4 linked regions of the Homo sapiens genome follow. The protein of the gene in region 4 interacts with the protein of the main gene of each other region in a pairwise test. Each region holds a gene or a part of one and is shown on either strand. Other genes may lie near its edges.

What was found.
Region 1: the proteins of NF2 (region 4) and RNF138 interact in binary tests that used the Homo sapiens proteins (3 or more experiments, as listed by UniProt).
Region 2: the proteins of NF2 (region 4) and SPATA22 interact in binary tests that used the Homo sapiens proteins (3 or more experiments, as listed by UniProt).
Region 3: the proteins of NF2 (region 4) and SCAPER interact in binary tests that used the Homo sapiens proteins (3 or more experiments, as listed by UniProt).

The regions. Positions count from the first base shown.
Region 1 is NC_000018.10:32,108,871-32,115,897, forward strand, and holds part of RNF138 (E3 ubiquitin-protein ligase RNF138), read left to right. Parts: intron 1-2,883; coding exon 2,884-3,049; intron 3,050-4,874; coding exon 4,875-4,990; intron 4,991-7,027. UniProt on the Homo sapiens protein: E3 ubiquitin-protein ligase involved in DNA damage response by promoting DNA resection and homologous recombination.
Region 2 is NC_000017.11:3,447,804-3,454,830, forward strand, and holds part of SPATA22 (spermatogenesis-associated protein 22), read right to left. Parts: intron 1,347-7,027; coding exon 1,004-1,346; intron 1-1,003. UniProt on the Homo sapiens protein: Meiosis-specific protein required for homologous recombination in meiosis I.
Region 3 is NC_000015.10:76,902,318-76,909,794, forward strand, and holds the start of SCAPER (S phase cyclin A-associated protein in the endoplasmic reticulum), read right to left. Parts: upstream 3,024-7,477; 5' UTR 2,982-3,023; exon of another isoform or gene 2,887-2,981; coding exon of another isoform or gene 2,876-2,886; intron 2,475-2,875; exon of another isoform or gene 2,431-2,474; coding exon of another isoform or gene 2,297-2,430; intron 1-2,296. UniProt on the Homo sapiens protein: CCNA2/CDK2 regulatory protein that transiently maintains CCNA2 in the cytoplasm.
Region 4 is NC_000022.11:29,606,626-29,613,652, forward strand, and holds part of NF2 (merlin), read left to right. Parts: intron 1-7,027. UniProt on the Homo sapiens protein: Probable regulator of the Hippo/SWH (Sav/Wts/Hpo) signaling pathway, a signaling pathway that plays a pivotal role in tumor suppression by restricting proliferation and promoting apoptosis.

The sequences.
Region 1 (7,027 bases), on a different chromosome or scaffold from region 4:
AAAGTCTCACTATGTTGTCCAGGCTGGCCTCAAGTAATCCTCCCGCCTTGGCCTCCCAAAGTGCTGGGATTATAGGCATAAGCCACTGCCCATGGTTTTATGTATATAGGTTTGATGGGTATATACTTCAGAGTGGAATTTATGCGCTCTAATGGATATTGCCACCCAGTTTTCCAAATGGTTGTAAAAGTTTATACTCCCATAGCCTCCAATGTGAGTTTAGGTTGGTTCATATCCTCCCTAACACTTGGTATTTCCCACCGTTTTCATTTTTGTCTTTTTCTTTCTTTTTTTTTTTTTTTAAACAAGGTCTCACTCTGTTGCTCAGGCTGAAGTGCAGTGGCACGATCTCAGCTCACTGCAACCTCTGCCTCACAGGCTCAAGTGATCCTCTCACCTCAGCCTCCTGAGTAGCTGGGACTACAGGCATGTGCCACCATGCCAGGCTAGTAGAGATGGGGTTTCACCATGTTGCCCAGGCTGGTCTTGTGAGCTTAAGCCATTTGCCCCGCTCAGCCTCTCAAAGTGCAGGATTACAGGTGTGAGCCACTGTGCCTGGCCATTGTTTTATTATTACTATTTTTTTAGAGACAGGGTCATGCTGTGTTACCCAGGCGGGCCTTGAACTCATTGGCTCAAGAGACCCTCCCACCTCAGCCTCCCAAGTGGCTAAGACTACAGGTACATGCTGCTGTGCCCAGATTTGGTTACTTTTACTATTTTTAAAACTAGTTTTGCTGGGCACCATGGCTCACGCCTGTAATCCCAACACTTTGGGAGGCTGAGATGGCTGGATCACTTGAACTCAGGAGTTCAAGACTAGCCTGAGCAACTGGCAAAATCCCATCTCTACAAAAAGTACAAAAATTAGCCGTCGCAGTGGTGCATGCCTGTAGTCCCACCTACTGGGTAGGCTGAGGCAGGAAAATTACTTGAGCCCTGGAGGCAGAGGTTGCAGTGAGCCAAGATCGCACCAGTGTACTCCAGCCTGGGCGACAGAGCGAGGCTCTGTCTCAAAAAAATAAAATAAATAAAACTAGTTTTTAGTTTGGCAAGTGAAAACTGGCATCTTGTTTACTTTGCGTTATTTTGGTTTCTGGCTATGGTAAATATTTTTAATTGTTATTGTTTTTTGAGAGACAGTATTGCTCTGTCACCCAGGCTGGAATGCAGTGGCACCTTCATAGCTCACTACAGCTTCAACCTCCTGGGCTCAAGTGATCCTTCGCCTCAGCCTCCTGAGTAGCTGGGACTGGACGTGCATGCTACTATACCCAGCTAATTTTTTTTATTTTTAATTTTTGTAGAGACAGGGTCTTGCTATGTTGCCCAGGCTGGTCTTCAACTCCTTGCCTCAAGCTGTCCTCCTGCCTTGTCCTCCCAAAGCACTGGGATTATAGGCATGAGCCACTACGCCCTGCCTAATGTTTTAGTTTATGGTGTTAATTGGTAATGACTTCTAGTGCTGCTTTAATGATATTAACTACTATTTATTGAGCACTTTCCTGACCATGACAAATAATGTGTTAAGCATTTTATACTTGTTATCTATTTTAATCCTCTGAACAGCCGAATCAGTTGTAGATACTTTTATTATTTCGTGAGTGAGGAAACTGATATTAGAGGGAAAAACTGACTTGTTTAAAAGTGCTGCATAGTTAGGAAACTCAGGTTATGTGATCTGTTACTGCACCATTTCCTCTCAACTTCTGTTAGTATAGAGGAGGAATATTCATATATATTTATAGGAGATTGGATTAAATGTATATGTATTCTAGATCCCAGATATATATGTCTGTAATTTAACTGGTTCTCTTGAAAGCAAAATGATCAAATAAGGTATTTGGTGGGGCTAGAGAAGATAAAAAGATTTTAGTTTGATTCTAATTAGAAAGTTGGTTATAAATGTTTAATCTTTTTTTTTTTTTGAGACGGAGTCTTGCTCTGTCGCCCAGGCTGGAGTGCAGTGGTGCAATCTCGGCTCACTGCAACCTCTGTCTCCTGGGTTCATGCCATTCTCCTGCCTCAGCCTCCCGGGTAGCTGAAACTACAGGCGCCTGTCACCACGCCCGGCTAATTTTTTATATTTTTAGTAGAGACGAGATTTCACCGTGGTAGCCAGAATGGTCTTGATCTCCTGACCACGTGATCCGCCTGCTTCAGCGTCCCAAAGTGCTGGGATTACAGGCGTGAGCCACCGTGCCCGGCAAAGCCGGAAGTATTCTTAAGTATTTCTCAAATTATGTTCCATTGCATACTGTTTGGGAAATTTCCCTACTTCCGGACCAAATAACCAAATATCTGTTAACACGCAGATAACTTTGGGTAACACCTAACTTTGGGTAAAACCTATTAACTTTATCCTAGAACTTCCCAAACCAATTTGTGTGCTCTTTTGTAGTAGACCTGTTTATGTCTTGTGGAACAACATGTCGATATACATCAGTTTGAGACAAAAGCTTATGTTACTCATCCTTTTATTTTGTAAGGGGAGGAAATGGAGATCCAGTGTGCGTTAATTTGTTGGCCTAAGATTACACAGCTACTAAATGGCAGAGCCAGGATCCGGTTTTTCCTTTGTACCATGCTTCCTCTAGTAATATTATTAATATGTAGCATTAATATTTATTCATCATATATTATGTTAAGAAGTTGTAAAGCAGACTTGAGTGTAATTGTTCAAATATTCCCATCTAGTCCAGTTATCAGTCTTACTCTCTGATAAATACATATACAGTTACTAAACTTCTGAGATTTATGTACATATGAGTAGCCTAACTTATTTAATATGAATACATATTTATAATCACTTGTTTGTATTTAATTATAGAGATGAAGAGAGTAATTTTTTTTGTAATTAATGTGTCACAATGTTTGGTTTAGTTTCTGTAGAAAATGTTTCCTGACTGCAATGAGGGAAAGCGGAGCACATTGTCCCCTATGTCGTGGAAATGTGACTAGAAGAGAGAGAGCATGTCCTGAACGGGCCTTAGACCTTGAAAATATAATGAGGAAGTTTTCTGGTAGCTGCAGATGCTGTGCAAAACAGGTAGAGTAAATGTGACATCTCTCTTCTTTGGAAGCCAAGTTTCTACTCTGAAATTCTTATTTGAATTTTCTTGGTTGGTGTTTTTTTTTTTTTTGAAAAGATGAAAGGTATTTAGACTGGGAATTGGATAGAAAAGGCCAAAAAAAGCTGTGGTCATAGATCTTACTAGATTATAAACTTACTGAGAAATGAGACTGAAAAAAAAATCACTGAATTTCATAATACTTAGCGTGGCATTTTTCTAAAAGTAATTTCTCATTGATTACTTGCTAAAGTAACTAAATTAGCAAGCTGGCATTTAGCTCATTTAAACCCCATTCTGGTACAAATTCACCCCTTAAGTTTTTCTCATGGTAGCATCATTATTGCAGCTTTACACATAGAAATGTTACTAGTTTGGGCACATGGATTTATGTAGTTTAAGGAACTCTCTAGCTCCTCACTTTACTTATGTATTTATGTATGTATTTAAGAAATCACAAGGGCCGGGCATGGTGGCTCATGCCTGTAATCCCAGCACTTATGGGAGGCCAAGGTGGGTGGATGACCTGAGGTCAGGAGTTCGAGACCAGCCTGACCAACATGGTGAAACCCCGTCTCTACTAAAAATAAAAAATCAGCCAGGTGTGGTGGCGCATGCCTATAATCCCAGCTACTTGGGAGGCTGAGGCAGAATTGTTTGAACCTGGGCGGCAGAGGTTGCGGTGAGCTGAGATTGCGCCATTGCACTCCAAACTGGGCAACAAGAGCGAAACGCTGTCTAAAAAAAAAGAAGAAGAAAGAAATCACAAAATATTTGGTTAATTTTAAGGAACATGTAGGAAAATCAGGTGTTAACAAATAACCAGCATTAATTCTCTAATCTGGATTTTATTCTATCATTTGGAGAAGGAATAAAATAGAGAGGGGTGGTTAGGCTTTGAGTATATCCATGTGTCTATAGATTTATCACCGACATTTTTTCTAATAGCTAATGAATTCAGTGAGCAAAGCTGGTTGCTATTTCATGCATTCACACAAGTCAGATCTGCTTTTACATCTTTTTGAAGGAAGTGTTTAACTGACAGGGCAATGACGTGAAGCTGGAAAACACACTCGAGAGATTCTGGCTATTCCTCTCAGTGAGAAACTGAAAAATGTTCCAAGTATTCCTGGCAACTTAATTTTTTTTGAGACAGGGTCTCACTTTGTCACCCAGGCTGGAGTACAGTGGCACAATCTCGGCTCACTGCAGCTTTGACTTCCCAGGCTCTAAGCAATCCTCCTGCCTCAGCCCCACAGGTAGCTGAGATTACACCTGGCTAATTTTTGTATTTTTTGTATAAACAGGATTTTGCCATATTGCTCAGGCTGGTCTTGAACCCCTGAACTCAAGCAGTCCACCCATCCCAGCCTCCCAAAAGGCTGGGATTACAAGCGCGAGCCACTGCACCCAGCCAGGAACTTAATTTTTTTTTAAGTGCTTTCTAACTCTGCCAGGCTGCAGAAGTTAAATAATAAGACATGCCCAATAGCATCTGGCATCCTCTTAGTGCTTTTAATTTTTTTGTCTACTGCTGGTAGTGTCTTTTCAAGTGTGAAGTTATTTGCTGTTTTTTGCAGTGAATTTATAGACAGATGGACTCTTCTCCATCTCTACATTTAATGAACAGAAATGTATTATCTATTCTTAACTCCTACTTAAGGATGAAATCATTTACTTTAAAAAAATACAACTCCTGTTTAAATGGAGTATTTAGTTACTTTTATTTTTTCCTCTCTTTACACTATTTCAAATCTTACGAGTTCTATTTTAAATTAAAAGTCACATTTTAATAATTTACAGATTAAATTCTATCGCATGAGACATCATTACAAATCTTGTAAGAAGTATCAGGATGAATATGGTGTTTCTTCTATCATTCCAAACTTTCAGATCTCTCAAGATTCAGTAGGGAACAGGTAAGCAATACTTATTCCTAAATACAGAATTTTCATAATTGAAATGGAAATTGTTTTGGGAACTATATGATAAGGTATTTGGGGGGATGTGTGTGTGTGTATGTGCACATGTGTTTTTAAAGTGAATTGCCAAGTATCAGAACTACAGCATTTGCCTTAAAATCTGTTTGGCACACGTAAGCTCTCATCTGGGAGATGACTTCATGAACTTCAGCTTATGTTATTTAAAATCATTCTAAGAATTTTCATTTTTTTGAGTAAAAAATAAGTTGGAGATTTTTCTCTTACTGATTTTGCAACTGAAATGATTTGAAAAACTATAGAAAATCCTTTTCAGTAATGTATTTGCAAACTACAACCTGTTTTTTCTTTGCTATCTAAGGGATAGACTTAGAGTTTGAAATTTTTATTCTAAAATGTCATGTAAAAATGAAACCAGGTGCAGTGCAGTTCTGTTTGAGTCTCATTTCTTTTAAACAACTAGATTTGGATTGATTTGTATCTTATCTCAGATTCATGTACATTAAACATTTTTATGAAATGTATTTTACACAGAAAAATGGCCAAAATGCACTTGTGGTTTAAAAAAATAATGATTAACATCCAGTTACCTATTAACCCAGGTCAAGAAAGAACATTTTTCAAAACTTCAGGATCTCTATGTGAGCTCCTGCCCATTTGAACCGTACACTCCTAGATGCAACCACTATTCTCTTATTTGGATTATTCATTCCTTTGATTTTCTTTATGTATCATCACCCATGCATGTATCCCTAAACAATGCATTGTTAATTTTGAAAACTTCAGTAGTAAGCACATACGTAACTGTAAGGAAAGACAATATTGCCACTATTATAGAAAGGTTCCCAGGAGACAGTATGTTAAGCAGTCTCTAATATTTTATTTTAGTAGCCTTTCATTTTACATATTGCTAATTTTTAGTAACTTAACCGCCCTTAAGCACTTCATGTTGATCATACTACATTAGGCGTCTTCCCTACTCAGTTGAAATTTCTGGTAAAAACCTTTAGTGATTGTCTGGTAAAGATCTGCAGTAATTTTCTGATTGCCTAGTCTGAAAAAACTTCAGGTTCTCATTTTACTTGACTTGTTAGTGTCAAGGAAATTTGTTTGAAAGTTGTTGCTCTTATAGTTTTTTTTTAGTCCTTCTGGGTTTCTTCATTTCTATGTTTTTCTTATTGTTGTACTTCTACTTTATTGTAATTTCCTATCTGCTTTTTTACCCAATAGATTGTTCTTAAGTGAGGGGATGGTGTTTGTCTTGTTGAGCATATCTCCAGCTTTTAGTAAAGTTCTTAGTATACATGATTGTAATCACGCTTTTAATGACCAAATTTTCTTATCAGGAGACAGGCCTTCCTCCCCCTTATTTCTTAGATCCACTTGGTCATAGACACTTGATTCCTAATAGCAATATTCCTCATCTGTACTTTTATTTTATCTTGTCACTTCCCTAGCTCAGGCCCTCATCATCTCTCACTCGAACTATGATAATAGCCTTTTTAGCTGGTAGTTATCCTCTAATCTGTTTTACATTCTATCGCCAAAGTAATATTAATGAAGTATAAAAGACAAAATTCTGGCTGGGCGCGGTGGCTCACACCTGTAATCCCAGCATTTTGGGAGGCCAAGGTGGGCAGATCACTTGAGGTCAGGAGTTCAAGACCAGCCTGGCCATCATGGTGAAACCTTGTCTCTACTAAAAATACAAAAATTAGCTGGACGTGGTGGCGCGTGCCTATAGTCCCAGCTACTTGGGAGGCTTAGGCAGGAGAATCACTTGACCCTAGGAAACGGAGGTTGCAGTGAGCCGAGAGCACATCACTGCACTCTAGCCTGGGCGACAGAGTCAGACTCCGTCTAAAACACACACACACGCACACACACGCACGCACGCACACACACACTTCCTTATTCCAAAGCCCTTTCTGATCTGGCCCTTTCCTCTCTTTTTATAGCCTCTTTCTTGGTTATCCATCGTTGCATCACATGCCTTAGCCATGTTGATTTATTTGT
Region 2 (7,027 bases), on a different chromosome or scaffold from region 4:
AAGTGAGAAAACCCAACCTTTCCTCCCACCCTATGATGTCGTACCAGTGACTCCTACTGGCTGACCTCTAGCAAAAGCCAGCAAGTAAACAATCTCAGGATGATGCACTACATAGGACAGTTCAGCCTTCCACAACAGAGAAGGGCAGGTGAAGAATCAAGTGGGCCAAGGGGCCAGGGAGCAGAGATGAGGAATAACCAGCACACATAATATATAAATAACATTTACAAAGAGCAATCAGAGCACTGAGCGTAGAGAGGAAGTACAGTTGAGATACAGGTATAGGGAAGAATATAAACCAAAGCACAGAGTGTATGCTATGTTTAGAGAATTGTGACGAGTCTGAAGTGGCTAGAGCATTGGACAATTAGTAGACTATGAAATATGAGGCTACAAAGGTAGACTAGGACAAGATCATAAAGCAAAGGTCATAATAAGTTGATCATAAAGAAAACTATGGCCTGCAGTGCAAATCTAACCTGCTATCTATTTGTGTAAACATTTGTTGGAGGAGAGCAGTGTCCATTCATTTATGTATTGCTTATGGCTGCTTCCAAGCTACAGTGGCAGAGTTGAGTAGTATTGCTGAGTAGCTGCAACAGAGACAGTACGGCCCATAAAGCCAAAAATACTGTCTGGCCCTTTAAGAAAAATGTTTGCTGACCTCTGTTGAAAAATACTTAGAATGACATATCAAGAGCCTGGGTAACTTCATAAACAATGGATAAACTGTCTTTATCTTTAAAATGAGTGTAAAGTGAAAGTCAGAATCCAGCAGAAAACTCTAAAGTTTGAAAGGAAAAGGAGCAGCCATTCATACCCTCTAAGAAAATATTTTGGAAACTAACATTCATCCACTTCAATGGAACTGAATATTTATGCTAATCAAGTAATGTATGTCATGGAATTTATTTCAGGCGCTCTTATCTCTGTAGTTTTCTAAATATTTACCTCATATTTTTAAAAATGTAAATAAGTCATTAATTTGTATTTAAACATTTACCTTCAGGGTGTTGTCTTCTGGAATATCATCCAACATTTGTTTCTTATATTGATTTTGTTGAAAATTGGGCTTAAGTGTCTGTAGTGCACTGTTTTTGTCTAGCCCTCTCATTGTGCAGCCAGATATTTTTGATGAATGTGTTTGTCTGAGTAGCTCGGTTTCTTTGTTGCGAGATAAGTTAGGAGGTTCAGGTATTCTTAATTGTTTTTGTTGTTGAGCTCCCGAACTCACTGGACAAGAATTTTTTCCATCATTTGCCACTAAGTTTGTTCGTTTACATTGAGGCTTAAAATCATTTTTATTCCAAGTTTTCAAGCTGGTATTTTTGTTACCATCTCTGTAGCTGTAATAGTGCAAAAAAAAAGCATTTGTTTCTATATGGTTTCTTAATTACAAAAAAAATTAATAATGAAAAATTCATTTATATGGCAATTTATGACTTAGAAAGCACTTTATAACTAACTACTGAGAAATTCCAAATACATCACAACAACCCTACAATGTTGTACTACCTCTCTTTCCAGATGAGAAGACTGATCCCTAATGAGGAATTAACTTGTCCAAAGTCATACAGGAAATTACTCACAAGTCTAGAACCCAGGAAATACAAGATCTCCCAACTCAGAGTCTAGTACTACAAAGTATATTTTTAAATGATAGCATTCTTCATATGATAGTAGTTGTATCCAAGTGGTAAGACTTTGAGGGCATTTACTTGCTTCTTTATATATTCAATTTTAAAATTTTCTACAAAGTAAAATTTTAAGAAGTTAAACTGTGGCTTAGCAATGATTTTAAATCACAAGGAGAATACATATAAGCAGGATAGATAGCTATTAATATTTGATTAGAAATTTTGTGGTTTTACTGCACAGCTTAAAAGCCCTATAATGTATTTGGTACAGCATTTGTCAGCAACATTAAGTGTGTTATATCAGCTGACCAGAACATTATGCTAGATGCTAATGAGGCCAAAATCAAAAGCATAATTTCTGAGCAGCCTAGTTAGGAGTTCCACAGGAAACAAAACTAGTCTAAGTCACGAATTTTTTTTTTTTCTCTTGGAGACAGGGTCTCGTTCTGTTACCCAGGCTGGAATGTAATGGCAAGAACACAGCTCACTCTAGCATCAATCTCCCAGGCTCAAGCGATCCTCCCACCTCAGCCTCCTGAGTAGCTGGAACTACAGGTGAGTGCCACTATGCCCAGCTAATTTTTGTTATTTTTTGTAGAGACAGGGTTTCACCACGTTGCCCAAGCTGGCCACAAACTCCTGGGCTCAAGTGATCCACCTCCTTGGCCTCCCAAAGTGCTGGGGCTAGAGGCATAAGCCACCATTCCCAGCCCACAAATTCTTAATTCTCAGTAATTTTCCTGGAAATACCACAAGTATCACAAGAGGGCAACCAATACAACCCATCCCCTACTTAGGTAAATAATCCAAAAAGAGGTCTAGGTACACTGCTGACCAGGAACAAATCCAAGTTTTATGAGGTCTGAAGCTTGTATAATTTGGGGAACACTGTTAATTGGGTACAAAGTTAGTACAAAATAACGAGAAAAGAAAGCACAATTACAACAATTTAAGTTATAAACACCACAAACATCACGATACCCAGAAAAAAATTGTTAGAATTATTATAAATTAACTGCCTGATACTCCTTTATAGAAATTTTTTCCTACACTGATCACTTCTTCATACGACAATAATTTTGTAATTTTTTTGGACTCAGGCCAGTCTCAAACCCATGGGCACAAGTGATTCTCCTGCCTCAACCTCCAGAGTAGCTGGCACTACAGGTACGTACCATCACACGCAACAATTTTGTAATTTTATTTTCAATAAAGAGAACAGAAACACAATTTTGTCTTTCCTCACTCTCATGGTTATAGAAATTACTTTTATTATTCATAGTCTAGAAAAATTTATTTCAGCTTTACAACTCTCTGTTCAGCACATTTGTAGTAATGCCAAAGATCACTGATCACAGATCATCATAACAGATATAATAATAATGAAAAAGTTTGAAATATTGCAAGAAGTACCAAAATGTGACATAGAAACATGAAGTGAGCACATACTGTTGGAAAATGGCACCAATCGACTTGCTCAATGCAGGGTTACTACGAAACTTTGACTTGTAAAGAATGCAGTATCTGTGAAGTGCAATAAAGCAAAGTGCAACATAATAAGGTATGCCTATATGAGGAGAGGCTGAGTGGATTAAAGATCCAACTGTATGCTGTCTACAATGAACTCAGTTTAGATTCAAAGACACATAAAAGCTGAGAATAAAGGGATGGAAAAAGATATTCCATGCAAACAGCAACCAAAAGAAAACAGGGGTGGCTAAGTTTATGTCAGACAAAATAGACTTTAAGTTAAAAGTTGTTTCTAAAGACAAAGAAAGTCATTATATAATGATAAATGGGTAAATTCAATAGGAAGACATAAAAATTGTGAACATATATACATCCAATATCAGAGCACCTAAATATATAAAGCAAATATTGACAAATCTAAAAGGAAAAATTGACAGCAACATAATAAAAAAAAGAAAGCTCAATACTCCACTTTTAATAATAGATAAATCATCCAGACAGAAAAATCAATAAACAGTGAACTTGAACAACACTATGGATCAAATGGACCCAAAAGACATATATGGAATTTGCCAACCAACAGCAGAAGACTACACATTCTTCTCAAGCACAGATGGAACTTTCTGAAGGATAACTCACGTTAGGTCACAAAAACAGACTTAACAAATTTAAGAAGATCAAAATCACACCAAGTATCTTTTCTGACCATAATGGTATAAAACTAGAAATCAATAACAGCTAGAAAATGGAAAAATTCGCCAGGCATGGTGGCTTACGTCTGTAATCCCAGCACTTTGGGAGGCCGAGGTGGGCGGATCACAAGGCCAAGAGATCGAAACTGTCCTGGCTAACATGGTGAAACCCCGTCTCTACTAAAAATACAAAAATTAGGTGAGTGTGGTGGCATGCACCTGTAGTCCCAGCTACTTGGGAGGCTGAGGCAGAAGAATCACTTGAACCTGGGAGGCGGAGATTGCAGTGAGCCGAGATTGCACCACTGCACTCCAGCCTGGGCGACAGAGCGAGACTCTGTCTCAATTAAAAAAAAAAAAAAGAAAACCAGAAAAGAAAATGAAAAAATTCACAAATACAACAACACCCTCTTGAACAATCATTGATCAAAGAGGGAATTAAAAAAGAAAATCTTAAAATTATTGAGACAGAAACAAAACATAACATACCAAAACTTATGGGAAAGCAAAAGCAGTACTAAGGGGAGTTTATAGCAATGAATGCCCAAGTGGAAATAAAAAGATCTCAAATAAGCATCCTAACTTCACACTTAAAGAAATTAGAAAAAGAATAACAAACTAAGCCCAAAATAAGCATATAAAGGCAATAATAAGACTAGAGTAGAAATAAATAAAATAGAGAATTAAAAAAAAAAAAAAGCAAAACTGGGACCGGGCGAGGTGGCTCATACCTGTAATCCCAGCACTTTGGGAGGCCGAGGCAGGCGGAGCACAAGGCCAAGAGATCGAGACCATCCTGGCCAACATGATGAAACCCCGTCTCTACTAAAAATATAAAAATTAGCTGGGCATGGTGGGGCAGGCCTGTAGTCCCAGCTACTCGGGAGGCTGAGACAGGAGAATTGCTTGAACCCGAGAGTGGAGGTTGCAGTGAGCCGAGATCGTGCCACTGCACTCCAGCCTGGCAACAGAGTGAGACTCCGTCTCAAAAAGAAAAAAAAAGAAAAACTAAGAGCTTATTTTTTTGAAAAGATAAAGTCGACAGCCCCTTACATAGACTAAAAAAAGAAAAAAGAAGATTTAAATAAATGAAAGAGGAGACATACAATGGATTTCTCAGAAATAAAAAAGATCATAAAGGACTATTATGAACATTATATGACAACAAATTGGATAACACAGAAGAAATGGATAAATACCTAGAAACAAGCAACTTACCAAGATTGAATCAAGAAGAGGCAGAAAGCCTAAACAGACCAATAATAAGGAGATTAACGAAGTAATCAAAAACCTCTCAACAAAGAAAAGCCCAGGACCAGATGACTTCACAGTGAATTCTATCAAACATTCAAAGACAAATTAATACCAATCTTTCTGAAATTCTTTCATAAAACAAGAGGGAATTCCACTTCCAAATTCATTTTATGAGACTAGCATCACTCTGATATCAAAATCAAACAAAGACACTGCTAGAAAACTACAGGCCAATATCACTAAAGAACATACATGCAAAAATCCTCAATAAATACTAGCAAGGCAAATTCAACAGCACATCAAAAAAATTACCTGTCGAGTACTCTGTTCACTTCATGGGTGAGGTGACAGGATCCATACTTCAAACCTTAGCATCACACAATATTCCCATGTAAACAAATCTGCACATGTACCGCTTATATTTAAAGTGAAAGTTGAAATATTTTTTAACAAAATTATACACCATGATTAACTGGGATTTATTTCTGGGATGCAAGGTTGGTTTAACATACGCAAATCAATCAATGTTATACACCACAGTAGCAGAATTAAAGACAAAAATAGATGCAGAAAAAGCATCTGACAAAGTTCAACATCCATTCAGTTTACTCTAAAAAAAATAAGTATAGAAGGAACATACTCCAACACAATAAAGGTCATTTGCAAAATTCCCACAGCTAACATCATAATGGGGGAAAACTGAAAGTTTTTTTTCAAAGATCCAGTACGACGCAAGGATGCCCACTCTCACCACTTCTATTCAAACATAGTTACAGGCTGGGCATTCTAAATCTGAAAATCCAAAACTCGAAATGCTCCAAAATTTGAAACTTTTTGAGCAACAACATGATGCTCAATGGAAATGCTCACTGAAGCATTTCAGATTTTGAATTTTCAAATTTAGGATACTCAACTGGTAGGTATTCTGAAAATATTCCAAACTACAAAAAAATCTGAAACATTTCTGATCCCAAATATTTCAGACAAGTAATACTCAACTAGTCTTGGAAGTCCTAGCCAATCAATTAGCCAAGAAAAGGAAATAAAAGGAGCGCAAATTGGAAAGGATGAAGTAAATGTCTCTGTTTGCAGATGACATGATCTTGTATGTAGAAAACCCTAAAAACTCCATTAAGAAACTGTTAGAACTAAAAAATGAATTCAGTAAAATTGCAGGATACAAAATCAACATACAAAAATCAGGAGCATTTCTTTACACCAACAATAGATATTCCAAAAGGAAACCAAGAGAATGATCCCATTTACAATAACACCAAAAAGAATAAAATACTTAGGAATAAATGACCAAGATAGAGAAAGGTCTATACACTAAAAAATATAAAACAGATTAAAAAAAAAAAACCTGAAGACAAAATAAATGAAAAATCCTGTGTCATGGATTTGAAGAATTGATATTGTTTTTTGTTTTATTTATTTATTTATTTTTATTATTATTATTATACTTTAAGTTTTAGGGTACATGTGCACAATGTGCAGGTTTGTTACATATGTATACATGTGCCATGCTGGTGTGCTGCACCCATTAACTCATCTTTAGCATTAGGTATATCTCCTAATGCTATCCCTCCCCCATCCCCCGACCCCACAACAGTCCCCAGAGTGTGATGTTCCCCTTCCTGTGTCCATGTGTTCTCATTGTTCAATTCCCATCTATGAGTGAGAACATGCGGTGTTTGGTTTTTTGTCCTTGCGATAGTTTACTGAGAATGATGATTTCCAATTTCATCCATGTCCCTACAAAGGACATGAACTCATCATTTTTTATGGCTGCATAGTATTTCATGGTGTATATGTGCCACATTTTCTTAATCCAGTCAATCATTGTTGGACATTTGGGTTGGTTCCAAGTCTTTGCTATTGTGAATAGTGCCGCAATAAACATGCGTGTGCATGTGTCTTTATAGCAGCATGATTTATAGTCCTTTGGGTATATACCCAGTAATGGGATGGCTG
Region 3 (7,477 bases), on a different chromosome or scaffold from region 4:
CAAACAACAGGCACTAGGGATCACTAGGCCAAGGGGAGCATGGGCTGAAAGACCACCTGTTGTGTACTATGCTTATGGCCTGTGTGATGGGATAATTGGGACCCCAAGCATCGGCATCAATTTACCCATGTAACAAATCTACACATGTACCCTCTACTATATAAGTTGAATTTTTTTTTAAAAAAAGGTTACCATCCAGCAGAAACTGCAAACAGAATTTTATTAATGATTTAATTTTTGCTATGCCAGCCATTTACAGTTTTCTCTTCTACAATTTCAGAAATGCCAATTCCACAATGGATATCAGATTGTACCCTTACAGAGAATTCTATTAAACTTCCCCCTAAATAATACCCCCACTTTCTAAGTGTTTAAATAACATTCACATGTGATTCCCAAAGAAGTTGTTTATCCTTTAAAACTAGTCTGGGCTGTGGTCAGGTATGAAAGTGAAAGAGGCCAGGTGCAGTGGCGCACGCCTGTAATCCCAGCACTTTGGGAGGCCGAGGTGGGTGGATCATCTGAGGTCAGGAGTTTGAGACCAGCATGGCCAACATGGTGAAACCCGGTCTCTACTAAAAATACAAAAAAAAATTAGCCAGGCATGGTGGTGAGTGCCTGTAGTTCCAGCTACTCAGGAAGCTGAGGCAGGAAAATCGCTTGAACTTGGGAGGTGGAGTTTGCAGTGAGCCAAGATTGCGCCACTGCACTCCAGCCTGGGTGACAGAGTGAGACTCGGTTTCAAAAAAAAAAAAAAGAAAGTGAAAGAAATGACAGAATCTCAAGTCCCTTCATCTTACTTATCTTTAAAACATTCCTGCAGCTAAATGAAGACATTAATGACCTTAATATCAATCTTTTAGGAGTTCTTAAAATACCTATGAAGCACCAATGGCAAACATTTTTAAAGTCTGTTTAGAATACTATATCCTTTGGACCAGTCACCAAAATTTATTTATAAACACATTTGTACAGTACTGCTGATTACACTTCCATGGTTATTTGACCTGAACAACCAAGTGATTAACCATAATGCTATGGTCTGCATGTTTGTGTTCTTCAAAATTCTTGTGGAAATCCTAGTTTCCAAGGTCATATCAGGAGGTGGGGCCTTTGGGAGATGACTGTATTATGAAAGCAGAACCTTAATGAATGGGATAAATTCCCTTATAAGAGGCCAGAGAGAGACCCCTTCACCCTTGCACCATGTAAGGAGACAGCTAGAGGGTGCCATCTATTAACCAGAAAGCAGGCTATCACCAAACACTGAATCATCAGACATCTTGATCTAGGACTTCCCAGCCTCCAAAACTGCAAGAAATGAATTTCTGTTGTTTATAAGCCACTCAGTCTGAGGTATTTTGCTATACCAGACCCAAATGGACCAAAGACACATAGAGTATATTTTTAATGCAGCTCAAGGGAGTGTGGAGAAAGAAGGAAAAGAGCATTTGTTGAGGGCTTACCATGGGCTAGGAACAGTTCTCAATACTTTACAGACACCTAATTTATTACTATCAACAAAATTATGAGGTGGATATTATTCCTACTTTACAGATAAGAAAGGCTCAGAAAAATTAATTTGCCAAAAACAAGGGTTGGGGCTGAGATTCAAACTCAAAACAGTCTGCCTTCAAAGCCATCAGATTACTTCTCCCACAGACAACCTTCCAAATCACATTAAAACTTGACTCTTTGATTGATTAAAAATATTAATTCTTTAGTGGATATCATTCTTCAAGTGGCATAAATCATCTGCAACCAACAAACTTTGAGGAAAAGTCATAGTTAACAGAAATAACAGAAGGGAAAGAGCACCAGTATAGGCCAGAGTGGGACAGTGGTCAGACTACCAACCTTAGGTCAGAAAACTTAACCCCAGATTTACCACTCACCAGCTGGTGATCTAAGGCAAGTAATAACCTTTTGAGCCCCCGTTTCTCCATTCATAAAATAAGTATTACTCCTAGCCCATCCATCCTTCTACCAGATTATTTATGAAGATGAAAAGTTAATGATGAAATTAATCCATAAACTAAGACAAACTATAATTCATATAAGGAATTAGTATCTGTTCGGTAAAATGACTATTAATGAATAGCTATTTTCATGGAAAATAACTTGTCACAACTAGAATAAGAGATGCAGTCCACCAGCAACAGGAAGCTGCTCACAAACAGGCGGCCTCATCTCAGCTGGGGCCCCCTTAACAGCAGCAGGTGTTGCTTACAGGACCAGTTTTGTGCCTGCTTTCTAACAATCCCGTTCCTCCCTGGTGCCGTTCCCACGAACGCGCCTGGAAAACGGTGTAGAGGAAAGGCGCCAAGGAAGTGCTGTTTTGGAAAAGAGCAGCAACAGAGGCAGGAGGCTGGGTCCCACTACTCCCAGGTGCGAGAGGCTCTTCGCCCCTCCAGGCCTCAGCGCACGCATCTGGAAGACGGAGAGGCCATTCCTGCCCCGTTTCCTGGGCAGAGCTAAGATCAGAGTACAGGGAAAGCATGGTAAACCCCGCTGGGAATGACAGATGACGAAGACGATCACCTGTCAAACGAAGGGAGGCTCCTCCAGGGGCCCCTCGCATTTAGACATTCCAGAAGCCTCGTCACCCGCGGCCGGGGCTGCCCCCAAGTGAGGTGACGCGGCAGCCCCCCACTCACCCCTCAGACCGCGTAGTGTGCGGGGTCTCACGTCCCTCACACCCCAGATGAGCCCGCAGGGCAGGGCCCGGACGCGGCTCACCCCAGCCCCCGTCCCGAGGCCTCCGAGGCCGACCTCCGAGCCCTCCCCAGGCGACCGCGGCTCCCCTCCCCCAGCAACGATCCCTGCCCCGCTCAACTCGCACTCCCAGGTGAGGGGAGGGGGTGAAAGGGCGTACCCCGCCGCCATTTTGTCCCCTGGTCCCCGCAAGGCATTCAGACGGCCCGCGCCCCAACCCGGACCCGCCCGGGTCTGCGCTACGCACGCCCCTCGCGGACACTCACCCCCGACCGCCCTGCTTAGTTCGGGGCGGCTCAAAGCGTCCCGCCGGGAAAGGGGCGTGACGGGGCGGGGCAGGGAGGCCTCGGAGAGGCGGGGTGGCTTCCCGGCGCACCACGTGATCTCAGCCGCTGCCGCGCCGCTCCCGGCTGCAAGATCTGTGTTGTCCGCGCGCAGGCGCACGCCCGTTCGCGCCGTTGGGGCGCCCAGGCGGGAGGTGTGAGGGTTGATTTGGTTCGATGTCCCGGCGCGGCGTTTCCGAAGCTGTTTCTTTTCCTAGGTTAAGCTTACACCGCCGCTTTTGGCCACACAGGTCTTTCTCGTACTCAATCTCTTCCCTCCTCCTGCCTTATCACCACAGTCAATCCACAGATTAAGGACTTAGAGACGCGCCTCACAGAAATCTGTGCTGGCGAAAGCACTTGACAGGAGCACGCTGGGCTGCGCTGAACACAACTAGGCCTCCGAGAAGCTTTATCAGGGCCCTTCTGTGTGCCAGGCTTGGAAGGTCGAAGTACAGAGACCTAACAAATACGTTTCATCTACTTCAAAGACAAACATATGATGAATTAAATACTTTAACGTTTAAATCAGTCTGAACAAAATAGAAAAAAGATTCAATGCAGACTGTAATTATCAAACGAATATTCACCGTCCCTTTTCATCCAGCTGGGAAACAGCTCTTTACCCTTCCCTCTCCCTCCCCACCCGCAGTAGGCGGGAAGTCCTGGACTCACAAGCGTTGTGGGGGCAGGAACCATATGGCTATGTTCTGGCTCCCCTTCTCTCTTGCCTTCTTAGAAAACTCGCTTTTTCATTTATTCAGCAAATGTTTATTGACCACATACTATATATCAGATGGTATTCTAGATGCTTGGAGTTAATACGTGAGCAAAATAAACAGAAATCTCTAAAAAACCTCCGGCTTCTTGGAGCAGGGTGAAACCAGGCAAGTGTTACATCAAGTTTAGCCAAAAGCTGTGTCCTTACATATTTTAAGTTCAGCCTGAAGGTTTCTCCGTAAATAGTAAACTATAACCTAAATGGAGGTGTAAATACACTGCAACCTACTCTTGCGCCAATCACCAAGTTTTGGCCAAAGACGGCCAACTGTTCAAACCGTGTTCAAATAAGGTAAACGTCTAGCTATAACCATTCTGGCTGTTTCCCTACCTCACTTTTCTTTCTCTGTCTATAAACCTTTTTCCACCATGTGGCTCTGCGGGAGTCTGTATGAACCTACTCTGGCTCAGGAGGCTGCCTGATTCGGGAATAATTCTTTGCTCAAACTCTGTTTAATTTGGCTAATATTTTGCTTTTAACACAAGAAATAGTAAACACAATAAATAAGTAAATTATATAACATGATAAGCACTACAGTTAACAAAATGAGTAGGATAAGGGGGATAGAGTAGGGAGCATACTACAATTCTATAAAAGGCGGTCAGGGCCTCATTTCTTAATTATCCCCACTTCCTTTCATACTCATAAGCATGTAAACAACCTGAAGTCTCTCCCATCTTGAAATCTCCCGCCGAACCTACCAGACTCCACTTCAACCTCTGCTTTCTTTCCTATAATACATTTCTCCAATTATCTAAACAAGAGTGCCTCCAATTCCTCAACCACTACTCAAGTCTGGACTTACTGCACTCTGGTTTCTGCCCCACCACCCCACTGAAACCATTCTTTCCAACATCACTAGGGGCCAGCCGCCGTGGCTCGCGCCTGTAATCCCAGCACTTTGGGAGGCTGAGGCAGGTGGATCACCTGAGGTCAGGAGTTCAAGACCACCCTGGCCAAAATGGCGAAACCCTGTCTTTACCAAAAATACAAAAAAAAAAAAAAAAAAAATAGCCGGGTGCGGTGGCGCACACCTATAGTCCCAGCTACTCGGGAGGCTGAGGCACGAGAATCCCTTGAACCTGGATAGCAGAGGTTTGCAGTGAGCTGAGATCATGCCACTGCACTCCAGCCTGGGTGACAGTGCGAGACTCCATCTCAATTAAAAAAAAAAAAAAAAAAAAAGTTGGGCTGGGCTGGTGGCTCCCGCCTGTAATCCCAGCACTTTGGGAGGCCGAGGCAGGCAGATCACGAGGTCAGGAGATCGAGATCGAGACCATCCTGACCAACATGGTGAAACCCCATCTCTACTAAAAATAACAAAAATTAGCTGGGCGTGGTGGCATGTGCCTGTAATCCCAGCTACTCAGGAGTCTGAGGCAGGAGAATCGCTGAACCAGGGAGACGGAGGTTGCAGTGAGCACAGATCATGCCACTGCACTCAAGCCTGGCGACAGAGCGAGACTCTGTCTCAAAAAAAAAAAAAAAGTCACTAGGGATTTCCCTACTATATATCTTATGGACATTATCATCATTACCTAACTTAATTTCTCTTCATGACCCTCCTTCCTTCTGGAAATACTTTTCCTTGCCTTTCATTTTTACTCTCTTGGTAGCACTTCTCCATCTCTAACCACTCCCTCTCCATCTCTTTTAAAGTCTCTCTTATTTCTCCCAGCCTTTAAATATTGTTATCCCACAGGAATAGGTATAAGCCTTCACTCTTTTCCCACTGGACACACTCTCTACATGACCACTGCCTTTTACATAACTTTGGTTAGCATCTTTATGCTCTGGATTTCCGAATATATATCCCCAGCCCTGATTCCTACTCCTGGGATCCAGGCCACATTGTTAACTACCTACTGGTCATCTCCACTTGAATTAATAAAAATAAATATGACAAAAATAAAAATGATTCATCTTTCTTATATACATATAAAACAGCTTTATTGAGATGTAACCTACATACAAATCAGTGGTTTTTAGGATATTCACACAATTGTACAATCATCACTGCATTTTCTTTACCCCGGAAAGGAACCCAGTACTCACTTCTCCATTTTCCCTCAATTCTCTCAGCCATAGGCAACCACTAATCTACTTTCTCTATGCATAGATTTGCCTACTCCGGACACCTTGTATAAAGGGAGTCATGAGATGTGGTATTTTGTAACTGGCTTCTTTCACTTTGCATATATTCGAGGTATGTTTCTGGGCGCGGTGGCTCACGCCTGTAATCCCAGCACTTTGGGAGGCCAAGGCAGGCGGATCACAAGGTCAGCAGATCGAGACCATCCTAGCTAACAAGGTGAAACCCCGTCTAGACTAAAAAATAGAACAAATTAGCTGGGCGTGGTCGTGGGCGCCTGTAGTCCCAGCTACTGGGGAGGCTGAGGCAGGAGAATGGTGTGAACCCAGAAGGTGGAGCTTGCAGTGAGCCAAGATCGCTCCACTGCACTCCAGCCTGGGTGACAGAGTGAAACTCCATCTCAAAAAAAAAAAAAAAGGTATGTCCACGTTGTAGCATGCATCAACGCTTCATTCCTTTTTAAGGCTGAATAATAGTCCATTGTATAGAATATATAATCACCTTTTATTTATCCATCAGTGGAAGGACATACAGACTATTTCCACTTTTTGACTATTATGAACAATGCTGCTATGCGCATTCATTTACAAGTTTTTGTGGGGATATATATTTTCATTTATTTTGGGTATATTCCTAGGAGTAGAATTGCTGGGCTACATAGTAACTGTATTTTTAAATTTTTCTGGATCTGCTAGATGATTTACCAAACCAGCTACACCATTTTATACTCCCACCAGCAGCATATAAGGGTTCCAGTTTCTCCACATCTTTTCCAGCACTTACCATTGTCTGTCTTTTTTATTACAACCATCTGAGTGGATGTGAAGTGGTATCTCATTGTAGTTTTGATCTGGACTTCCCTGATAGCATAGTTTCATGTGCTTATTGGCCATTTATGTATGGTATTAGATAAATGTCTATTGAAATCCTTTGCCAATTTTTTAATCAGGTTACCACTCATTTTCTTTTGCCACAAAATCTATTCCTATTAATGATATGCCAAACAGTCTGGTTCCCCTCCGTGATGTGCTGCTGCCTTGGCCCCACTGATGGCAGATAGGTAACTTGCTTCAGCCAATAAAATGTAAGCAGGAATGTCAGTTCCAAGCAGAATTTATAAGAGCTAGCTTGTGCGTTCATCATGTCTCTTTTCTGTCTGCCACAAGCAATTTGTTTTAGAGAGAAGCTATTCCATCAGCATAAGTTCCATACTAGAGATGACATGGAGCAGAACTGCAGCTGATCCCCAGTGGATATGTAGCATTTTATATGGTTTGACTGTGTCCCCACCCAAATATCATCTTAAATTATAATCCCCATAATCCCCACATGTCTAGGGAGAGACCTGGTGGGAGGTAAATGGATCATGGGAGCGGTTTCCCCCATGCTGTTCTCATGATAGTGAGCTCTCACAAGAGCTGATGGTTTTATAAGGGCCTCTTCCACCTTTGCTCCTCATTCTTCTCTCTCTCACCTGCCCTAATATAAGATGTGACTCTTCCCCTTTCACCATAATTATAAGTTTCCTGAGGCCTCCCCAGCCATGCAGAACCGTGAGTCAATTAA
Region 4 (7,027 bases):
GGTAAGAGGCAACTGGGAGATCTGCGGATTTAATGGAGATGCAGCCTAGACTGTAGGCCTCCTGGTTTGCTGGAAAGAATTGGGGAATAAGACAGCTGGAAGAAGCCATTCTAGGATCAGAAGAAGGATCAAACATTGACCGCAGCATGGTGGCTCACGCCTGTAATCCCAGCACTTTGGGAGGCTGAGGCAGGCAGATCATCTGAGGTCGGGAGTTTGAGACCAGCTTGACCAATATGGTGAACCCCATCTCTACTAAAAATACAAAAATTAGCTGGGCATGGGGGCATACACTTGTAATCCCAGCTACTTGGGAGGCTGAAGCAGGAAAATCACGTGAACTGGGAGGTGGAAGTTGCAGTGAGCCAAGATCACGCCACTGCACTCCAGCCTGGGTGACAGTGAAGCTCTGTCCTGTCACAAAACAAAACATTGACCACAGACCTCTGAGGTGGTGGATGTCCCTCCTGTCCTGGTTGTATCATTATACATTGTATATTAATGTATCGAAATACTACAGGTACCCCCAACATGTGTACAACTATTATGAATCAATAAAAAACAATTTGAAAAGTAAGGTATGTGGCAGAGGTGGAAAAAAATGCTTTCCTCCAAACAGCCACAATTTGATTGTATCAGTTTGTAGAGTAAGAGCAAGTTATGCCTCAGTGTGTTGTTGAAAATAATAGAACAATATGCCACAATTAGTGGAGCTTCATAGCTGGGTGTGGTCAAGGAGAGAATAGAAGAGAACCCTACCAAAACCACTGTCATCCCAGGGTGACTGTGAGCATACCCAAAGCTGCACCTCCCTGAAGAGCAATATCATAGGCCTTAACACTTTTCAGGGGAAATGGATTTCACTCAAATAATCCAGCCAGTCGCTAAACAAATAAATAACAATTGGCCCTGGAGAGGGGGTACCAATCCCCAGAGTTGCTACAGTATATTATCTAAAATGTCCAGTTTCCAACAAGAAATTGTGAGACGTACAAAGAAACAGGAAAATATGACACATACACTGGAAAAAAGCTGGCAGCAGCAACTGCCTGTGAGACAAGGGGCCAAATTAATGAAAAAGGCTTCAAACTGGCCTATATATATATTCACAGTACTATATATATTCACAATACTAAAGGAAAATATGATGACAAAGAAGTAAAGGATGGTATGACACTGTTGCATCAATTAAAGAATATCCATAAAGATATAGAAATTATAAAAAAAGAATCAAATGAAAATTCTGGAGTTGAAAGTACAATAACAGCTGGGCGCGGTGGCTCACACCTGTAATCCCAGCACTTTGGGAGGCTGAGGCGGGCGGATCACCTGAGGTCGGGAGTTCGAGACCAGCCTGACCAACATGGTAAAACCCCGTCTCTGCTAAAAATACAAAAATTAGCCAGGCGTGGTGGCCGGCACCTGTAGTCCCAGCTACGCGGGAGGCTGAGGCAGGAGAATTCCTTGAACCTGGGAGGCGGAGGTTGCAGTGAGCCAAGATCGAGCCACTGCACACCAGCCTGGGCAACAGAGCAAGACTCTGTCTCAAAAAAAAAAAAAAAAAAAAAAAAAGTACAATAACAAATTTAAAAATTAACTAGAGGGACTCAGGACTCAATAACAGATTTGAACTGGGTGAAGAAAGAATTCGTTAATTTTTTTTTTCTTTTTGAGACAGAGTCTCGCTCTGTTGCCTAGGCTGGAGTGCAGTGGGGCAATCTCGGCTCACTGCAACCTCTGCCTCCCTGGTTCAAGCGATTCTCCTGCCTCAGCCACCGCACAGTGGCTTTGGGAGTACTCTGGGAGGCTGAGGTGGGTGGATCACCTGAGGTCAGGAGTTCAAGACCAGCCTGGCCAACATGGTGAAACCCCATCTCTACAAAAATACAAAAATTTAGTTGGGCATGATGGCGGGTGCCTGTAACCCCAGCTACTTGGGAGGTTGAGGCGGGAGAATTGCTTGAACCCGGGAGGCGGAGGTTGTAGTGAGCAGAGATCGTGCCACTGCCCTCCAACCTGGGTGACAGAGCGAGACTCCATCCCTGCCCTGAAAAAAAAAAAAAAGATGTGAAACACATACAAAAAAAAGTAAAATGGCAGTTGAATGCCAAGTAATTAGATAACTTCAATAAAATGGACAAACTCCTAGAAAGATATAAACCACCAAAATTGACCCAAGAAGAGACACTATCTGAATAGACCTATAACAAGTAAAGATATTAAATTAGTAATTGAGGGGACTCGTGGGGTAACTTGCCCTTGGGAACCAGTAGTATGGCATCGGGCTGCAAGATTGGCCTGTCCATCCTCAATGCTACCTGGCCAATTTAGGGGCCCAGTGCCTCTGGATGCTAGACTCTGGGGTCGATTATCTCCACCGGAATGTAATGGATGAACATGCATGTGATGGTGTCCAAGCCAGAACAGTGGGTAAAGCCAATGGCTATAAGAGGAGCCAATCAGTACATCTTTCATCTCGAGGAAACTGAGAACCCAGGGGCTTTGATTAAAGACATTCAGGAGAATGGGATGAAGGTTGGCCTTGCCATAAAACCAGGAACCTCAGTTCAGTATTTGGCACCATGGGCTAATCAACTAGGTATGACCTTGGTTATGACAGTGGAACCAGGGTTTGGAGGGCATAAATTCATGGAAGATATGATGTTAAAGGTTCACTGGTTGAGGATCCAGTTCCCATCTTTGGCTATAGAGGTCGCTGGTGGAATAGATCCTGACACTGTCCATAGGTGTGCAGAGGCGAAGCTAACATGATTGTGTCTGGCAGTGCTATGGTGAGGAGTGAAGACCCTAGATCTGTGATCAGCCTGTTAAGAAACATTTGCTCAGAAGCTGCTCAGAAAGATTCTCTTGATTGATGAAACCTTAAGGAGCCCAATGTTTGTTTATGAAATCTCCTTTTTACTGGAAAACAGGAATATTGACTACCAAATCATAGTGTAGTTGAAGCCATTCTGCGTTTTTGAGCAGTTATTCGTTTCAGTGATTATAATTGATTGTGCAGAGTATTCTAAGAAGTTAGAAATTGGTGTGTATAACTACATTTTCAGTGATGCAATTTAATGATTAGTGAGTGAGATACTGTTTTTATTGAGAGCCTTGATTTTTATAAAGAGTAAAAATATGGCTGCATTAAGGGTACAAACAGAAAAGTGTCTTAATGTCTAAGGAGGGCATATTAGCTACACTATAAAAACAATTTTTTTCTGTATTTCTGAAAAGAATTTTGTTGTTTCTCAGTTGTTTTCCAAAAGCAAAGGAAGTCTTAATGTTTTTTTCTATTTCGTGTTATGTGTGATTTGTTTATATGCTTGGTAATATGAGTCTAATGGAATTTAAAAATATAAGTTTGGGTAGGATAGTATACCCTTAAAAAATAAATAAATAATTAGAGAGAGAGAGAGAGAGAGAGACCTGGGCACAGTGGCTGTTGCCTGTAATCTCAGCACTTTGGGAGGTCAAGGCAGGAGGATCCTTTGAGGCCAGGAGCTTGAGACCAACCTGGGCAACATAGAGAGACCCCAACTCTAAAATATACATACTATATCTAAACTCAGCTAGGCGTGGTGGTGTGAGCCTGGAGTCCCAGCTACTCAGGAGGTTAAGGTGTGAGGATCACTTGATCCCAGGAGGTTGAGGAGGCAGTGAGCTATGATTGTGCCACAGTGCTTCAGCCAGGGTGACAGAGTGAGACCCTGTCTCTTAAAAAAAAGAAAAGAGGCTGGGTGCAGTGGCTCATGCCTGTAATCCCAGCACTTTGGGAAGCCAAGGTGGGCAGATCACGAGGTCAGGAGTTCAAGACCAGCCTGTCTAATATGGTGAAACCCCATCTCTACTAAAAATACAAAAATTAGCCGAGCATGGTGGAGTGCGCCTGTAGTCCCAGCTACTCGAGAGGCTGAGGCAGGAGAATCGCTTGAACCCGGGAAGTTGGAGGTTGCAGTGAGCTGAGATTGCGCCACTGCACTCCAGCCTGGGTGACAAAGTGAGACTCCATCTCAAAAAAAAAAAAAAAGAAGAAAGAAAAGCAAAGCAAAGCCCAGGCCTGTACCTACTAGAGGTCCTGATAACTTCACCACTGAATTCTATCAAACATTTCAAGAAAAATTAATACAGTTCTTCACAAAGTCTTCAAAAATGAAAAAGAGGAGAAAATACTTACAAACGAATTTTATGAGACTGGTATTACCCTGTTGCCAAAAACCAGGAAAAGACATTACAAGAAAAGAAAACCATAGACAAATATATCTTACAAATGTGGAAGCAAAAATCCTCAACAAAAATACTAGCAAACTGAATCCAGTAACATATAAAAATAATTATATACCATAAACAAGCAGGATTTATTCCAGGAGTGCAAGGTTGGTTTAACATCCAAAAATGAATTAGTGTAAATAATGTAATGCATTATATCAATAGAATAAAAAACAAAAATCACCTTGTCATCTCAGTAGACACAGAAAAAGCATTTGACAAAATTCAGCATGTTTTTCATGATAAAAACACTAAATAAACTAAGAAGAGAAGAGCAGTTCCTCAACCTGATACACAGCAGTTATGAAAAACCCACAGCTAACTTCATAATAGTGAGACTGAGGCCAGGCACAGTGGCTCACGCCTGTAATCCTAACACTTTAGGAGGCCAAGGTTGGAGGGATCACTTGAGGTCAGGAGTTCAAGAACAGCCTGGCCAACATGGTGAAACCCTGTCTCTACTACAAATACAAAAAAAAATTAGCCAGGTGTGGTGGTGCATACCTATAATTGTAGCTACTTGGGAGGCTGAGGTGGGAGGATTGCTTGAACCTGGGAGGCAGAGGTTGCAGTGAGCTGAGATAGCACTACTGCACACAATAGGCTGGGCGACAGAGCTCAAAACAAACAAACAAACAAACAAAATAGTGAAAGACTGTATGCTTATCCTTAAGATTAGGAAAAAGAGAGATAAGTCTACTTTCACTACTGCTATTCAGCATTGTACTGGAGGTTCTAGCCAGGGCAATTAGGCAAGAAAATGCAATAAAATACATCTATGTTGGAAGGGAACAAGTAAGATCATCTCTGCAGATGACATGATCTTGCATATAGACCCTGAGGAATCCACTACCAAAGTATTGGAACTAATAAATTATTAGTTTAGTAAGGTTATAGGATACAAGATCATTACACAAAACTTAGTTGTAAATGTATCCACTTGGAATGAACAATCTGAAAAGGAAATTAAGAAAATTCCATTTACAATAACCTAAAAAATAAAAATACTTATAACAAAAGAGGTATCTTTTTTTCCATCCTCTGACAGTTTAGTAAAAGAAAGTATAAAACTTATACTCTAAAAGCTGTAAAACATTTTTGGTTTTGTTTTTTAAATTAATTTTTTTTGAAACGGAGTCTCACTCTGTCGTCCAGGCTGGAATGCGGTGGCGCGATCTCGGCTCACTGCAACCTCTGCCTCCCAGGTTAAAGCGATTCTCCTGCCTCAGCCTCCGGAGTAGCTGGAGCTACAGGTGTGCACCACCATGCCTGGCTAATTTTTGTATTTTTAGTATAGAGGGGGTTTCACCATGTTGGCCAGGCTGGTCTCGAACTCCTGACCTCAGGTGATCCACCCGCCTCAGCCTCTGAAAGTCCTGGGATTACAGGCGTGAGCTAGTGCGCCCAGCCTGGCCTTTTAAAATATTTAATTAATTGATTTTTTTTTTTCTCGGACTTGCACTGAAGTGAGAACAAGTGCAGTGGTGCAATCATATCTCAGTGCAGCCTAGACCTTCCAGGCTTAAGTGATCCTCCTATATCAGCCTCCCAAGCAGCTCAGACCACAGGCATGCGCGATCATCCCTAGCTTTTTTTTTTTGTTTGTTTGTTTTTTAATTTCTTGTAGAGACAGAGTCTCCCTGTGTTACCCAGGCTGGTCTTGAACCTGACCTCAAGCAACCTCCCATGTTGGCCCCTCAAAGTGCTGGGATTACAGGTGTGAGCCACCGTGCCTGGCCTGTAAAACATTTTTAAAAGAAAGAAGATATAAATAAATAAATAAATAGAAAATAGCTCTTGTTCATGGATCATAAGACATAACGTTGTCAAATTGGCAGTATTTTGGAAATTGATCTACACGTTTGACATAATCCCTGTCAGAATCCCAGTTTATTTCATTGTAGAAATTGACAAGTCTCCAGGCGTAGTGGCTCATGCCTGTAATCCCAGCACTTTGGGAGGCCGAGGCAGGCGGATCACCTGAGGTCAGGAGTTCAAGACCAGCCTGGCCAACATGGAGAAACCCTGTCTCTACTAAAACTACAAAATTAGCCGGGTGTGGTGGCACATACCTGTAATCCCAGGTACTCGGGAGGCTGAGGCAGGGAATCGCTTGAACCTGGGAGGCGGAGCTTGCGGTGAGCTGAGATCACGCGCCACTGCACTCCAGCTTGGGCAACAAGAGCGAAACTCCATCTCAAAAAAAAAAAAGAAATTGACAAGTCAATTCATAAATTCCTATGGAATCGCAAGGGACCCACAATAGCTAAATCTTGAAAAAGAACAAAGCAGAAAGACTCACGCTTTGTGATTTCAAGACATACTATAAAACAACTAATCAAGACAACGTCACCAGGCACCGTGGCTTATGCCTATAATCCCAACACTTTGGGAGGCCAAGGCAGGCAGATCACTTGAGGACAGGAGTTCGAGACCAGCCTGGGCAACATGGCGAAATCTTGTCTCTACCAAAAATACAAAAATTAACCGGGCGTGGGGGTGCACACTTGTAGTCCAAGCTGCTTGGGAGGGCTGAGGCACAAGAATCCCTTGAACCCAGGAGGTGGAGGTTGCAGTGAGTCGAGATCGTGCTATTGCACTCCAGCCTGGGGGACAGAGCGAGATTCCATTTCAAAAAAATAAAAATAAAAAGACAGTGTGGTACTGGTATAAGGATAAATGTGTAGATCAGTGGCATAGAATTGAGAGTCCAGAAATAAACCCAGTGGAATAGAGTTGAGAGTTCATGGTCACC